2 separate regions of the Homo sapiens genome follow, and region 1 is linked to region 2. Evidence: fine-mapped expression QTL. A gene starts in region 2. The other region holds a variant in brackets. All regions are shown on one strand. Distances are between the middles of the regions.

Evidence for each region. PIP is the estimated chance that this variant, and not a neighbour inherited with it, causes the effect.
Region 1: its variant is fine-mapped to the expression of PDCD6-DT in whole blood (INTERVAL, PIP 0.96).

Annotation. Positions count from the first base shown.
Region 1 is chr5:219,060-227,391 of GRCh38, forward strand. It overlaps SDHA (succinate dehydrogenase complex flavoprotein subunit A), which reads left to right. Exons shown (of 15, transcript NM_004168.4): 2 at 4,423-4,509; 3 at 5,301-5,462; 4 at 6,360-6,503; 5 at 6,824-6,988. Among named protein-coding and RNA genes, the nearest start is that of SDHA, 4.9 kb to the left of the region's middle. RefSeq lists an enhancer at 1-79. The variant C/T (reference allele first, on the strand shown) is at 4,241.
Region 2 is chr5:266,592-274,923 of GRCh38, forward strand. PDCD6-DT (PDCD6 divergent transcript) reads right to left here and starts at 4,933. Exons shown (of 2, transcript NR_104613.1): 1 at 4,754-4,933; 2 at 2,965-3,616. It overlaps PDCD6 (programmed cell death 6), which reads left to right and starts at 5,055. Exons shown (of 6, transcript NM_013232.4): 1 at 5,055-5,230; 2 at 6,120-6,181. The coding sequence starts at 5,130. It overlaps PDCD6-AHRR (PDCD6-AHRR readthrough (NMD candidate)), which reads left to right and starts at 5,055. Exons shown (of 13, transcript NR_165163.2): 1 at 5,055-5,230; 2 at 6,120-6,181. It also overlaps a transcript of SDHA not described here. RefSeq lists enhancers at 3,404-4,096, 4,758-4,847 and a silencer at 5,138-5,347.

The sequences.
Region 1 (8,332 bases), 48 kb before region 2:
TACTTTGGGTCGTGTTTGGTGGTCCTTATGCCACCAAAAATGTGCCAGTGTTTAAAAGCAGCTGTGCCAGTTTTTAAAACTCAGGCGGAGAGCTCAGCGCACTGACCGGGCGAGGACGCCGGGACCTGTGCTTGCCTGTGCGCTGAGTGCCTCTAGGGCCGGGCTCGGCTTAGTCCAGGATGGTGGTCAGGGTTATACTTCCCTGAGCCCTTGCTCTCTGAGTGTCTGAATGTGCCCTCTACGATTGCATCTTAAGAATCGGCCTTCTAGGGTTTTATTTAATCAAGCTAAATTGGATAGGTTTAGTTGTTTGGTTCTTTTAAATGAACTTACCCACCCACCTCCTTAATTACAAAGTAATTTTAAATTGCAGAATAAAAATCTCAATAGGAACCAAGGCATTCAGCAATATTGATTTGAATTATGCCTGTAATTGTGCAATTTTCTCCTTTTTGAAATACTTATTAAAAATCTCGTTGAGTTAAATGTGAGGATTAGTCATACAGCCATCCTGCCAACATCAGAAAGCGTGTAAACCGTTCTAGTGTGTTGCTGTGGTTGGTACTGACTGAGCAGAGACCCCTGCCGCATCTTGGGCTTTTAAGAGCTGCTAGGAGGGCGTCCACAAGCAGGAAGGAAAGCCCATGGTCAGTGGGGCTTTTTAGGGGAAATGGTAGCTTGTGATTGGAGAAAAGCTAGAGCTAGTGCCTTTGTCCTCAACCCAGATGGTGCCCGGTGTTCCTTCTGCAGACTAAGACCCTGCCAGCGGCGGAGGCACCTCAGACGGGATGGCAAGATAGCAAAATTGAACCAAAATTTAGTCTTGGGTTTTGTAAAAGTCTTTTTATCTTGATGAAGTTAGCTTTTCCTACAGAAATTCTGCCTGCAAGCAGCATATTTATCGGCATTTCAGATAGGCTTTTTTTCCTGAAGAATTGGAGTTTACGAAGGAACAGCATAATCAAAAAATTAGCAGAAAAAAGAAAGAAATTCGTGATAGCCAACTGAGAAATGTGTTTGGAAAATAGATGCTGAGGATAATTTCAGTAAAGTCCAGAGAGAATTTTTTAACCTCATTTTGGCCAGTTCTGTGGTGTTTTGATCATTCTGTATTTACAACTGCTTTCAAGTGACGAACTTATCAGACTTATTTTGCTTTTGGTTTCTTTTTATGGCCCAGTGCACTGACACAGCTTGCAAACTGTTCGAAAGCAGTTTAATCAGAGGAAAAAGAAAACCAAGAAACTTCAATAGTTACTGGTTAACTGCTTACTTCAGGTGAAGTTTTTCAAATCCCTTAACATGAACATCCAATATATTGTTCTAGGACAAATTGATTTCTTTTCTTTGAATGGATTGTTCTGAATATGTTTAATGGTGTTCTAGAAATACATTATTTAGGCCATTATAGTAGTAAACCTTTGCTTTGCTTCTTGGGATAATTGTAACAACAATGGCATTCCATTCTGCATTCCTCATGATGTTTTTCCTGATTTATTTGAAAAATTGTGACTTGTTTTTTGATATGAAACCTGGATATTAATATTAGTTGGGAGTCTCAGAGATTTTTCCCAAGGGTCTTTAGATAGGGGGGCAAGTCCAGGATCCAGAGCCAGGCCGGCCGACTTGAATCCTCTCTGAGCTCCGTCTTTCCGTGGGGTTAGTGAGGATTCTGTGGGTAATGTTTGAAACCTTTGGTGATGCTCTTGAGAACCAGGGCTCACAGCCTATGCACAGTAACCATGTGTGAACTGAATTTTTTTTTTTTTTTGAGACAGAGTCTCACTCTGTCACCCAGGCTGGAGTGCAGTGGCGCAATCTCGGCTCACTGCAAGCTCTGCCTCCCGAGTTCACGCCATTCTCCTGCCTCAGCCTCCTGAGTAGCTGGGACTACAGGCACCTGCCATCATGCCCGGCTAATTTTTTTGTGTTTTTAGTAGAGACGGGGTTTCACCATGTTAGCCAGAATGGTCTCCATCTCCTGACCTCGTGATCCGCCCGCCTCGGTCTCCCAAAGGGCTGGGATTACAGGTGTGAGCCACCACGCCCGGCCGAACTGTATTTTAAGTATCCCTGTTTTTAAAATAATAAACACTAAAATTCTAGTGAGAATAATTACACGCAGTTGTAAAAGAATCAATGAGTATACCCTCCCTCACCCAGTTCATTTTCCATGAAAGCAATTCCTGTTTCTGATACTGACTCCTGGCATTTGTAATACCTCTGTTTCTTTAGCGGATATGCAGGTGCATTTTTATCAGTTTTAGACTTCTTGCCTAGAGAGGGGATTTAGTTCACTTAAACTACCCTGCTTCCGCTTCTTCCTGATACAGTCGTGCGTTTTTAGGTTCTTCGTTGGCTGCTTTTGTGATTGTGTAGGTTGTACATGCAGATTAGTTTCTTGCTCGTGATTTATAGGTGCGTTGTATTAGATGAGGACCCCTTACTTTGCTAGATTTCGGATATGAATGTCTCTGCACTTCTTACTTTTCCCCTCCACCTCCTAATTCAGTCATCTGAAATTCTGTATTGTTAAGCAAGGTCTAAGTATTCCTTTTAGTTATATGTTCCCCATTTTTTTTCTTGAGGAAATGTTTGATAGTTTCTCCTAAAAAAATTAACAATTGGCACAAAAGACTAGTTTTGTGTCAAAACTAGTTTTGAGTTTTATCTAAAGACTGAAATTGGCTTAAAGTTGGGCTTTCCAAATTCAAAAATCTGCCCCAGATTAGATTTAGATTGAGAGGGTTAGTGTCCTTTTCGCCAGGGGGATGGCGTGATAATTTGTTCAAGATTGTGTTATAGTAGCTGCCCCTTTTAAGCCAGCTCTGTGTGTGTGTGGTGGGGGGTGGGCAGTGGGTCTTCCACATCAACATCCTAGAAAGAACGAATAAACATTGAGTGATCTCACTGTTTCTACTTACATTTGGTATAATATACTGTTCTTACTGGTGCTATTACTATGTTAATAGGGCACTTTACAACATTTTCAAGAACATTTGTATTAAAATTATTTCAAAGACTTCTTTCTTAAAATATGATTTTACCATGCAAAAATTTTACTAAGGTAGAAGAATATTTGTTCTTTCTCATTCATTTTCTGAAAAAAGAAAAAAGCTGAATTAGCTTATACCAATAAAAACAGAGACTAGAAATTGGAGAAATGAAGAATAATTTTTTATCCCACATAATAAGTAATTTCTGAATTGCAAGTATTTCTAAATACTTGAAGACATTCCTCACATCCCCTCTTCTGATTGCATTTATTTCCTAAAGCTTTTTTTTCTTTTCTTTTTTTTTTTTTTGGAGACGTTGTCTCTCTCTGTTGCCGAGGCCGGAGTGCAGTGGCACAGTCTAGGCTCACTGCAGCCTCTGCCTTCTGGGTTCAAGCGATTCTCCTGCCTCAGCCTCCCAAGTAGCTGGGATTACAGGTGCCCGCCACGACGCCCAGCTAATTGTTAGTAGAGATGGGGTTTTGCCATGTTGGCCAGACTGGTCTTGAACTCCTGACTTCAGGTGATCCACCCACCTTGGCCTCCCCAAATGCTGGGATTACAGGCATGAGCCACCGTGCCCAGCCCCTAAAACTATTCTTGATGATATTTCTGAGACTATTCAGTGGTCTTCTCAAATGTAGCCAGCAGAATGGAAAACGTATCCCCTAAATGGCTGGCCAACCTTAGCATATGGACAGTGTCACCTCTCTCACACAGAGCCACTAAAAACTAAACACCAAAACCAGTTTTCTTGGGTAAAGTTTTCTAAGATGGAAAATTTAAGCAGCAAGATGTGTCAAGTTGTAGATGTTGGCCAGGAAAAAGCCAGCAGCAGCCAGGCAGGGGAGAGTGTGCATCCGACATCCTCCTGTGTGATGAAGGGATGACACCTCGTCCCTCTAGGCTGTCAGCTTTTACTGTTCCAGGATACAGATCTCCTGATTCAATGTTGAGTGCCTTTTGAACTGACCACAAGCCCTCCTGGACGATTGGAACTGTAATGTGGAAAGGGCTATGATGGAGCCAGTTAAAATGCTTCATTACTTGCAAAATACCACATACAGTAATACAATATACACGTCTTTCCCCTTCTCCACTAAGTAGCATACATTAAGACTTCACAGAGGAAGTGTGCCTTTTTCATTTCGTATCTGAGTCAGTGAGTATCCTGTTTGGAAACAAGCTTCATCCTGGTTTTCTAGAGTGCCAAGTCAGGGTGGAAACGAGGACCTGGGGGCTCAGTC[C/T]TTCCTTGCCCCTTGGGCTGCCTTCAGGGTTAAGTAGAGGGTCCCAGCTGAGCTCTCTGGATGCACAGGAGCACCTGGGTACATAAGAAGGTGAACAGTTTGCAAGGGGAAATTACTATCCCCCACAGCATTTGTTCCTTCAGGACACTAACCCTCTGGATCTGTGTCTTCTGTGTCTCCAGTGGCCAACAGTGTTGCAAACAGGAACCCGAGGTTTTCACTTCACTGTTGATGGGAACAAGAGGGCATCTGCTAAAGTTTCAGATTCCGTAAGTTCATGCTTTTTGTTCCATTATAAATGATTTTTTTGGCTTAGGGGGTAAGGATCTATACCAGTTTGTTTTCATATGAGTCATAGACATAAGGGAAAAATTTCTCATAGGTATCCAATGCATGCTGAAATTATTTTCAGTGTAATAATACTTAATTGCAAGTACAAATATAAACATAGATGTTTACATTTTTACTTGTATCTGTTATGTATCTATAAACTAGATTTAAATTTAGATCAAGTAAAGCAATAAATTAAAATAAAATGAACAGTGTCTGCTGTGATAGATGATAAAATTCCTACTGAAAATAGGACGGTGGGGCCAGTGAACAGTATCTGCTGTGATAGATGATAAAATCCTACTGAAAATAGGATGGTGGGGCCCCTCGGGTGTGGGTTGCTTTGTATTTAGTGAGCCTATCTCTGTTGAAAAACTGAAACTTGCTGAGAAGTTGTTTTCTTATAAGCCCACAATAGCGACTGAATACTCCTTGGCACCTTCTCAGGCATAAGCATAGGCACGGCCCTGAAGTAGAGTTGTGGTCCTCAGTCTGACCCCATGGGATAGACCCTCTACCATTCGTAGAATCTGATTGTCAGTCCCTTCTCCAGGTGCGAATGTGCCCACCTCTCCCCGAACTGTTCAGGGCTCAGCCCCAGGACAGGATGGAGGCCCTGTGTGCCCAGCAGTTGCTCCTTTTATCTTTGTCAAGCTCTTTCACTGTCACAAGATTCTTCATGTTTGGCATAGTGGAACATGTGATTGACAGGTGAATTTTTCTTTTCCAGATTTCTGCTCAGTATCCAGTAGTGGATCATGAATTTGATGCAGTGGTGGTAGGCGCTGGAGGGGCAGGCTTGCGAGCTGCATTTGGCCTTTCTGAGGCAGGGTTTAATACAGCATGTGTTACCAAGCTGTTTCCTACCAGGTCACACACTGTTGCAGCACAGGTAAGAGAAAGGTGCCCCACTGTGCTCCCACTCCGTGCAGGTCCCGCGCAGCCTCGCACTTTCTACCTGGGCAGCCCCCTGCCTCCTCCCCCTGCTCCAGCCACATGGCCTCTTGCTGTGCCTTACTCAGCTCACCCTCTCAGGGGTCTCTCCCTGGAGCCTCTTCCCTGGGGACTTTGAAGGGCGGGAGACTTGTTGTCACTCCTAATTCAGACTCCAGTCACACTTGGGTTTTCTCTGACCATCTTGCCTACTACCTTCCCCACCTACCCCCGCCACCCCAACACCTTAAGAAAAGGAGATCACCTAAAGAGGAGGAATCAGAATTTAGGTTGGGGAAGAAAAGGGCAAGGGTTTCATTTGTCCCTGTGCTTCTGTCTTCTGGGACTCTCTGAGGGGTAAGACAGTGGTGGGCACACACAGCCAAAGGAAGCTGGGGTACAGGGGAGTGCGACTCTGAGTGTGGAGTTTATTACTTGGCAGGAAGCACTTCTAGTCTTTAACACATGCCCGTAAATGCCATTGGGAAGATTTGTTAATAAAATTATCTGGAAAGATTTGTTGAGTACCTTTTCTGTGCCAGATAGGTTAGGTTATAAGCATATTACAGGTAGCCTTTCACTCACTGCTCCAGTCAGCCCTTCCTGGAGTTCCCTGTGTCTCCACCACGCAGATGAGGAGACTGAGGCTAAGGATGGAATCACTGGGCGAGTCGGGGAGGGGTTGTGATCTGGAATCTGTCGGGTCTCGCTGCTCCTCTGCTGAGGTCAGCCCTCACTGGGAGTCACTGTGTGAGTAGTTGGCTTTCTCTGAATCCCCCCAGCGGGTGGATTTGGGCCTGGAAGACAAAGTTGGCGCTCCTGTTTGTGGCTTGTAAGGAGTGGTTGGTGTTTCCAGGGAGGAATCAATGCTGCTCTGGGGAACATGGAGGAGGACAACTGGAGGTGGCATTTCTACGACACCGTGAAGGGCTCCGACTGGCTGGGGGACCAGGATGCCATCCACTACATGACGGAGCAGGCCCCCGCCGCCGTGGTCGAGGTGATGGGCGGGAGGCTCTGGGTGTTCTCGTGGTCTGTTTCTAGTACAAAAGAATCCTGGAAAAAAATGTAAGCAATTGAGGCGGATGTGGCAGCCAAAAGAATGGTGATGAGCAAAGTTCACAAGAAGAGTCTTTTTCCGTTATGAACTATGCATTATATGTAACAAGAAAACTTCTCTTTGATGAAGTGTTGACATTTTCATAAAATAGGTTACTTTGGGTTTGCAGATTTGTGTTAAACTTGTTTAGTGTAGATTAGCTGCGAATATCTTGACTCCTTTAAGGTGTTAAGGTTTTTGTTTGTTTTTATCTTTCACAGCTAGAAAATTATGGCATGCCGTTTAGCAGAACTGAAGATGGGAAGATTTATCAGCGTGCATTTGGTGGACAGAGCCTCAAGTTTGGAAAGGGCGGGCAGGCCCATCGGTGCTGCTGTGTGGCTGATCGGACTGGCCACTCGCTATTGCACACCTTATATGGAAGGGTAAGGCCGCCCCCGTCCACCTGAGACAGGACACGTAGTGCTGGGGCTTATGGTGACAGTGGGGAATGGGTTAGCGTGCCCAGTGAGTCAGCCAGAGATTACGTAAAAAGCAACAGAGAACAGCAGCGTGGGGCGCATGCAGCGACTGTGGATGTGACAGGACCAGACGTGTGCCTTGAGGAGCTGTCCCTAAGGCAGTGTGTGACTTCTTGCATCTATGTCAGAAAGTTGAATCGATAATCTTACATACCAGGTTTTAACTTGGGATATGTGACACTCAACATACAAGAGCAGAGCAAGCAGGCCAGGCACAGTGGCTCAGGTCTGTAATCCCAGCACTTTAGGAGGCCAAGGCAGGAGGATCACTTGAGACCAGAAGTTTGAGACCAGCCTGGACAACATAGCAAGACCCTGTCTCTACAAAAAGTTTAAAAATTAGCTGGGCATGGTGGTACATGCTTGTAATCCCAGTTACTCAGGAGGCTGAGGCTCCTGGATCACTTGAGACCAGGAGGTTGAGGCTACAGTGAGCCATGTTCGTACCACTGCACTCCAGCCTGGGCAACAGGAGACCCTGTCTCAAAAAAAGAGAAAGAACAGGCTGGGTGCGGTGGCTCACGCCTGTAATCCCAGCACTTTGTGAGGCCTAGGCGGGCAGATCACAAGGTCAGGAGTTTGAGGCCATCTTGCCTAACACTGTGAAACCCCGTCTCTACTAAAAATACAAAAAAATTAGCCAGGCATGGTGGCAGGCACCTGTAGTCCCAGCTGCTTGGGAGGCTGAGGCAGGAGAATGGCGTGAACCCAGGAGGCGGAACTTGCAGTGAGCCGAGATCGCACCCCTGCACTCCAGCCTGGGCAACAGAATGAGACTCCATCTCAAAAAAAAAAAAAAAAAAAGAACAAGTATTTTAAGTCTCTTTTACCACCTCTGAGTTCCTGAATGGATTGGTTTTGTTTGTTTTGTTTTGTTTTGTTTTTGAGACGGAGTCTCACTCTGTCACCCAGGCTGGAGTGCAGTAGCACAATCTCAGCTCACTGCTACTTCCACCTCCTGGATTCAAGTGATTCTCCTGCCTCAGCCTCCCGAGTAGCTGGGACTACAGGCGCACGCCACCATGCCTGGCTAATTTTTTGTATTTTAGTAGAGACAGGGTTTCCCATGTTGCCCAGGCTGGTCCCGAACTCCTGAGCTCAGGCAGTCCACCTGCCTTGGCCTCCGAAAGTGCTGGGATTGCAGGCGTGAGCCACCGCACCCGGCCATGGATTGTTTTAATATTAACTGTTAACACTGAAGAAAGACTTGAGGTGACAATAGTTACTGGGTAATCAGAGTCAACTTTG
Region 2 (8,332 bases):
CCATGTGTGTGAGGAGAAAGGACACACCAAAGAAGTAAAATAATTGGGTCAATATAAAAAGAAAGTAGAATATTGCCCAGAGAGGAGATGTGGATAATTCCTAACACGGATCAAAGGTGAGCTGTGTCTAAGACAGTCAGACCTGCACCGTCCCGTGCAGTAGACACCGTGGCCGCTGTGTCTGAGATATTCAGACCCTCGCCGTCCCGTGCAGTAGACACGGTGGCCGCTGTCTGTAAGATATTCAGACCCTCGCCGTCCCGTGCAGTAGACACGGTGGCCGCTGTGTCTAAAATATTCAGTCCCGTGCAGTAGACACGGTGGCCGCTGTGTCTAAGATATTCAGACCTGCACCATCCTGAGCAGTAGCCACAGTGGCAAGTAGCCTCTGCACTGGACAGTGCAGCTACAGAATGATGCTATCACTAGAAAGTTCCATCAGCCAGCACTGATGCAGACCTTTGCAAATGCCCCTCACACTGAATAGCACCTAGCTGATAGATTGTCCACTACTCAGTGAAAAGCCTGTGTTAAAAGCAGTATTTGGTAGAAAAGCAAAAAAGGGGAAAAAATTAAAAGTGGTAAGTCATTGTCTTCCTTACTGAATTCTAGCAGAAGAATGTTGGAAGGAAGATGGGAGTCACGGGAGAAAGTATCATTGTCCCAGGACAGGAGGGGGTGCCAGGCATGGTTGGCTCTGTCCCTGGAATTCTATGGCGGGAATCTGGAAAAAGGAAAAGTGACTGGAGAAGAAAAGATTCTGTGTGCAAATGTCATGATGCAGCCATCAGTCATCCTGAGAAAATAAGCGAACAAAGTGGCTTCAGATGGATGCTGTTGGATACATGTACAGATACAATGTACACTTGCATATGCTTGTTCACACAAAGGACAGGATGGTTATCTGTTCATTTAACAAATACTTGTTGAGGGCCTATATGTGCCAAAGACATCAGATGCATAAGAGGGTGCACTATGGAAAGCCTCAGGAACACAAGTGCCCAGAAACATTTAGAAAAATTCTAATGAAAACAGAAAAGGCATTTTCAAATTAGCTGAGAGAAACGAGACCAAAGGAAAGACTGACCCAGTATTTGGATACATTATGTGATGAACCTTAATGCAGGGAGGAAAGTGTTATCTTTCAGTTAATTTCTCAACTTCTGGAGAGCTTAGAACAGACCTGGCTAGGAGGAAATTGAATCTGAGGCAGATGAGGAGATAGTGGTGCCTTGATGCTTCCAGTGATTGGGTCAGCAGAACCAGGGGTGGGAGATGATCTCTCTTTTTGTTGGCAGATGGTGGTCTCTGCTGTAGCTTTGTCCCCTGGTGACGGGACTCAGGCAGCAACCCCCATCATTGGCAATACCCCCACCTCTGAGAATGTGGAGAGGACTTGTGAAGACAATGTTGTCCCAAGCAGCACAGCCCAGGTACTGACAGGATTCAGAGCTAGAGGTTTCTTAGAGGTCAGGGTTGTAGAAGCAGCAGGGACTGCAGCTGCATAGTTTGTGTATGTAACAGGCTAGTATCTCTTGTTCTAGACTCATCCATTTGTACATTCATATGAGTATGCACGCAGGGTGTTTTTTCTTTCTTTTTTTTTTTTTGAGACGGAGTCTCACTCTGTTGCCCAGGCTGGAGTGCCTGGTGCAATCTCGGCTCACTGCAAGCTCCGCCTCCCGGGTTCACGCCATTCTCCTGCCTCAGCCTCCCAAGTAGCTGGGATTACAGGCACCTGCCACCACGTCTGGCTAATTTTTTGTATTTTTAGTAGAGACGAGGTTTCACCATGTTAGCCAGGATGGTCTTGATCCACCCGCCTCAGCCTCCCAAAGTGCTGGAATTACAGCTGTGAGCCACCGCGCCTGGCCAGGGTGTTTTTTCTTTAAACCTTAATTTCATAGTAATTAACCTCCCTTTCAAGAGTCAGCCTTGCTGCCCCTGAGATGATGCAGAAAAAGCACAAAAGGATCTGGGCTTGAATCTCCTCTTACTGCCTGCTTGGCTTTAGGCAAGTTACCTTCTCTGAACTCTAGTTTTCTCTTCAGTAAAATGTGGATATGGTGCCTTGGCATGGGGAGGATTAAACAAAGCCACATATTTAAATATTATAAGGGTGGATTATATTTAAATATTAAAAGGGTGGATTCTAGCTGGTTGCATTCATTAAGTGTGTCCTCTCTTGAATGAAGGCATTTTCTACCCCTAGAACTAAAGGGAAAGCATGACGGAGCACTCCTGGGTGCCATGGGTGATGATGGCTGTGGTACTCCAGGTTGGAGACTCGGCCAACAGTTGGTAGAGCCCAACTAACTGTTGGGAGTGGAGGCTGAGGCCTGCTGCAGTCACTGAGATGCTCCCCCTTTTAAAAAATTTTAAAATAGCCCAAGCTAGTCTTGAAGTTCTGGCCTCAAGTGATCCTCCCACCTCAGCCTCCCAAAGTACTGGGATTATAGACATGAGCCACTGCGTCTAGCACTGAGCTGTTTCTTGCTGAGGTTTCCCTGTAAGAACTTCCAAATTGGGTCACAAAATCATAGTTGTTAGTATTTTCAGAGTTCTGGAGAACAAAACAGGAGCCAGTGATGGGAGGGAGAATAAAGATGGACTTCAGAAACTACAGCTCAAAGAGCTGTGGAAGATTCTAGAAAGGATTCTTCAACAAGTGATATGAATACTTTGTCAATGAAAAGGCTGAACCTCTGTGAAATACTTGAAGAGATTTATTCTGAGCCAAATAGAGTGGCCACGCCCATGACACAGACCTCAGGAGGTGGCTGGGGTGCAACTTGGTTTTATGCATTTTAGAGGGTCGTGAGACATCAATCAAATCTATTCAAGATATACATTGGTTCAGTCCAGAAAGGCAGGACAACTCAAAGTGGGGGCTTCTGGGTTATAGGTAGATTTAAAAATGTTCTGATTGGCAATTAGTTGAGAGTTATTACCAATAGAAAGGAATGTCTGGGTTATAAGAGGTTGTGGAGACCAAAGTTTTATCAGCAGAAGAAGCCTTGGGGTAGCAGGCTTCAGAGAGAATAGATGGTGTTTCTCATTAGACTTAAGGTCTGTGTTGGCTTTCCCTGAATTCCAAAAGGGAGGAGGGCATAGTCAGCCATGTCCCACCCGCCCCCACTTCATGTCGTGGCCTGAACGGTTTTCAGGTTAATTTGGAGTGCCCTGGCCCAGAGAAGGGGTCCATTCAGATGGGGTGGGGCCTTAGAATTTTACTTTTGGTTTACAACTTTATGAAGAGACCATTAGAAACCACTTGAATTCACATCATGAAAAAAAATCCACACTGTAAAAAAGGTTTGTAGATTAACACATTAGGTGAATGCCAAAGCCACAGAATATCTAAATTTCTCTGAGGAATTTGAAAACTCTCAGGTATATGCCTTGTGGACAAGAGAGACAGAAAAATGGGACAGAGGATGAGATAGTTTGGAGAATGGATAGCTGATCAGATCTGTAGCTGTGCCCAGAGTGCTGAATAATGGATTTGCGTCCACAGGGAAGAAAGTCTCAGGTGCCACTGATAAAAGACCACGTCCTTGGCTCTGGGTCCATTCAACATCTTGGTAGACAACTGAGTGAAAATTCAGAGACAACCCTAGGAAGTATGAGGATGAAAAAAGTTAGCATTCATGGAATGAGGCACTGAAGAAACTGAAAAGCTGAAATAACCCCATGAAATAATGAGAATAATTGTAGTATTCTGAACCGGGGCACAGGACACAGGACCGGGGTGGAAGGCGGCACGAGACTACGCGCGTGGGAAAGACCCAGGGATCACAGTGGCCCAAAGCTGGGCACTTCCCAATTCCGGGATTTGTGCTACAGGCACTCCAGGCTCCACCTTAGAACTGTGTCCAGCACGAAGGCAGTGCTGTCTTGCGGGAGGCAGGGCTGCACCACCACCGGGGTGTGAAGGGGCCCAGCAGGCAGGGGTGTGAAGGGGCCCAGCAGTGTTTCCAGCTGCACGGGGTCAGGGGCCGCGCTGATGCAGAGCACGGGGGCGCAGGTTAAACCTAAAGGAGGGAAGCTTTTGGGGGCGGAACAGACAACCGAGAATGCTGCACACTGCCTTTCCCACCCGAATTGTGTTTTGACTTTTTTTTTTTTTTTTTTTTGAGACAGAGTTTTGCACTTGTTGCCCAGGCCTGGAGTGCAATGGCCCGATCTCGGATCACTGCAACCTCCTCCTCCCGGTTTCAAGCAATTCTCCTGCCTCAGCCTCCCGAGTAGCTGGGATTACAGGTGTGCACCATCACGCCCGGTTAGTTTTGTATTTTTAGTAGATACGGGGTGTCTCCCAATTGGCCAAGGCTGGTCTCGAACTCCCGACTTCAGGTAATCCACTGGCCTTGGCCTCCCAAAGTGCTGGGATTACAGGCGTGAGCCACCGCGCCCGGCCTGCTTTTGCTTTCTTTTTTTTTTTTTTTTTTTTGGCAGAGTCTCGCTGTCCACCCCTGTAGTGCAGTGAGCTCGGCTCCCTGCGGCCTTGACCTCCCGGGCTCAGGCAATCCTCCCGCCTCAGCCCACGGAGTAGATGGGACCACAGGAGCCCACCACGCCCGACTACTTTTTGTAATTTTTGTAGGGATGGGGTCTATCCATGCTGCCCAGGCTGGTCCGAACTGCTGGGCTCAAGAGCTCCGCCCGCCTCCGCCTCCCAAAGGGCAGGGATCACAGGTGTGAGCTACCGCGCCCCGCCCAGAGTTTCCGACTGTTAGCAAATCACATTCACCTCAAAACTATTTATACAAGAACTGAAAGGCAAACTAAGTCCGTGCTCCATCACTTCCTGTCCCAGGTCGCGGGGCCGGACATTTTCTCCAAGCGCTTTCCTGGCACAGCGCGCAGGCGGCCTGCGCCAAAGCTCTGGCTTCCTCCAGGCGCCCAGACCCCGCCCTCCCCGCAGGCGCCAGGGCGTTGCCTGGCAACTTAGCTGCGAGGGGATTGGCTGCGCGGGACCCCGTGACCATCCCGGAGACCACGCATTTCCTGCGCCCCCGGAAGTGGTGATAATGCCAGGCCCTGCCCCCGGCAGAGGCGGAAGCGGAGTCGGCCTGAGAGGTCTCTCGTCGCTGCAGGCGCCTCAGCCCAGCCGCGTGCCTTGGCCCATGGCCGCCTACTCTTACCGCCCCGGCCCTGGGGCCGGCCCTGGGCCTGCTGCAGGCGCGGCGCTGCCGGACCAGAGCTTCCTGTGGAACGTTTTCCAGAGGTGCGGCCTGGCACCGCCCGGGCACCTCCCGCCTCCGCCGCGGCGGCCCCGACCCCTGTCCCGACTCCCCCGACCAACCCCGTTCCCTGCCGGTTCTACTGCGGCCTCCTCCGTCCCCTGTCGGGTCCCCCGCGGCCCCCTCCCGTCCCCTGCCGCCGCCCCCGACCCCTGCCCCAGCCGACGCGGCCGCCCCCGTCCCCTGGCGGGTCCCCCGCGGTCTCCCCCGTCCGCTGCCCGGTCTCCTGGGGCCGCCCCTGCCTCCTGCCCGGTCCCTGTCCTGTGCGTCGGGCCCTTCCCAAGATGCAGAGTGCGCCACTGCAGACCCGAGGTCGCGGCCACCGGCTCCTGGGCTAGGCCCTTTTTCTCGCCTCAAGAGCCGCCAGGTGGAGGGTCTCCAGGGTGCTTGTTTGGGGAAAGCGGAAACAGACTGCCTGGGCGCTGTTAAAATGTCAGCAGCCAAGGAAGAAGCAGCGACCTGGCGTCTGCTCGGGCCAGGTGACCTTTATGGCGGCGCCTTCTGTCCCTGGTCGCTTTTCCACCGAATGTCCGAAACTGTAGTGACTGATGGCCAGGGAATGGCTTAGTTATCTGAGGGAATCTTGTCTTGTCTGTGAAAAAGGGAAACGGGTGCAAATGGGAATTCAGACAGGCCAGGAGAGGAAGGAAGGGAAGGATTGAGGTGAAGATGATTGTCCTCTTAGGGGAAGACCACACTGGACGTCGGCTCCTGGGGCACTTCCTTGATTCCGCTGTACTCCTCAGCGGGACGGGAGAGGCGGAGGTTCCAGGAGGGAGCCTTCCAGAGTCGGTGCAGGGTTGACAGAAGACGTTTGTTTTGCTTTTCCTGAACTTTCGATCGCCAGCTTATTTGGTCTTCTTGATGTTATAGGGTCGATAAAGACAGGAGTGGAGTGATATCAGACACCGAGCTTCAGCAAGCTCTCTCCAACGGTGAGTGGGCCAGTGGGAACTGGGTCTCCGGACCAAGAAGCCGCGAGCCTGCCCTGTTCACAGTGGATAACTTTCTGAAGTTGTTTTTCCAAGGACAAAGGAATCATTAGGACAAATTGTTATTACTGCTTCGTAGTGGAGATGCTTCTGGTTTATTTTGTGGCTACCGCTGTTACTGCTTGGAGTGCCTCACCGAGCCAGCTAACAACTGCGTGCGTGAGCACAGGGAAAGGCTTCTTGAGAAATGAAAACTAGATTGTAGGTTTAGGAGGGGAATAGGAAGCTTAGCTCTGTACAGCCGAAAGCCTTTTGGTAAGTTGGAGGTCCTTGAATTTCCTGGGTGACTGCATCTTGGTGACTTCTCTGAATAGACCTTCGAGGGCACTGGGGGGTGATTGTTGGAGGGCTTGGGGAGCTCAGGCAGCCCTTGTATGGGAATGTGGCTGTTACAGGAACTGCAGAAACTGGGACTGGGTTCCTGGGGAAAGGATTGGGGGTGTTGGAGGCGCTGGCCAGGGGATTATGGGGAGGTGTTCTTATCAGTGTGCGAATACTGGGCGTTCAGGCAGCGGGAAATCCGGGTCCTTGCGTGTTGTGAGCTCCCTGGAATTACGTTCTTGCCAGTTTCAGCTCAGTTGATCCCCCTCCCCTCCGCTATCATTGGACACATTTTACTTCATTGAAACCTGACTGCCACTTTTTCTGTAATCCCTCAGGGGCAGTCATCTTTTCTGATTCTGTGTATAGTTTGCTTTTCCAGATCCGTGCCATTTAAGCTAGAAAAGGGGTCAGTTTTGAGATGTTGTGAAAATGTTGAAAGGCTTCTTGTTATTAGTGGGAAGTATCTGAAGTTGCCAGAGACTGAACTGGGGCGCGGGGAGCACTACGGCTGCTAGACACTGCCTCACTGCGCTGTGGGTGGGGGGGTGCTGGATTCAGCCTTACTGCCTAATGATTTGTGAGGATTTGTGTTTTCAGAGTAACATTTTTACCTTATATTACGACATCAGTTCCTAATATGTGGCGTGTGGGCCACAGATGCTGGTGTATTATTTCACATGCATTTCTATAGATTGTTTTCAGGGAATTCAGAAATGCTGTTATCTCTACACTAGTGATTGTGCTTTCTTGGTTTTTCTCTTTTCATTATTCTTAAATCCTCGTTTTTTTTTTTTTTATTTGCATCTCAGTTCGTTTTTACTCGGGAAGTGCAAGACGTGGCTACTAGAAAGAGATGTCAAGAGAACCCGGAATCCAGTAGGCTACAATTTGGCAAATCTCAGCTTAAAACTTCCTAAATGTTGACCACAGTGGATGCAAATGGCTCTGTGCATCACCTGTTAAATATGGTCAGATGACCATCCAGGTTCAAGTGGTTTGTCACCAGGGTGATACAAGCCACACGGAGTGCCCTCCTCAGAGGCCATGTTTCAGAGACATTTATTTTGAGTGGTTTTCCAATGAGTGATGCAAGATTTATGATCCATTTTAACAGCCTGCTTTTTATGCATTTGCTCTAATTTTTAGATTTTAGGTTTAGTTTTAGGTTTTCTGTTAAACTTGCTCAAATAGGAGTGGTGGTCAAATACTGGACCGCATTAGTATGGTAGCCTGCCCACCTTGGCAGGCTCCACTGGAGTGCTTTGGGGCCTGCCTGGATTCCAGTCCTGGCTCTACCAGTTTTGTGTCCTCGCCGTTACTGGGAGGGAGTATTGAGGAAATGCATGCGAGGTGTTTCCGTGATTCCTGGCACGGAGCAAGTGCTCAGTAATTGTCAGCTGTGAGTATTAGTAGTAGCTAATACACTGGTACTATTCTTGGCTAACAAGCCAGCTCAAAGCTTTGATGGTTTTCCATTACCTGATGATGGTGATGATGGTTTCCACTTACTCAACACTCACACGCTGGGCTAGGCACTTAACCCAAATCCAAGGTCAGCATTATTGTTTGGGGGTGGGGGAGACACCTCCTGCTCTGACTTGTGTGTTTGGGTTCCTGTATTTTCACCAGAGGGAGTTAGTCCTGCCCCAGTTCAGCTGGTCCTCAAAGTGTATATAGCTCTTTAACCATCAGCAAGTGTCTATCAGAACATAATCTTGATTTCAGCTGCTACTAAATATCTACCAGGAGACTGCTTGAGAGAATTGCCTG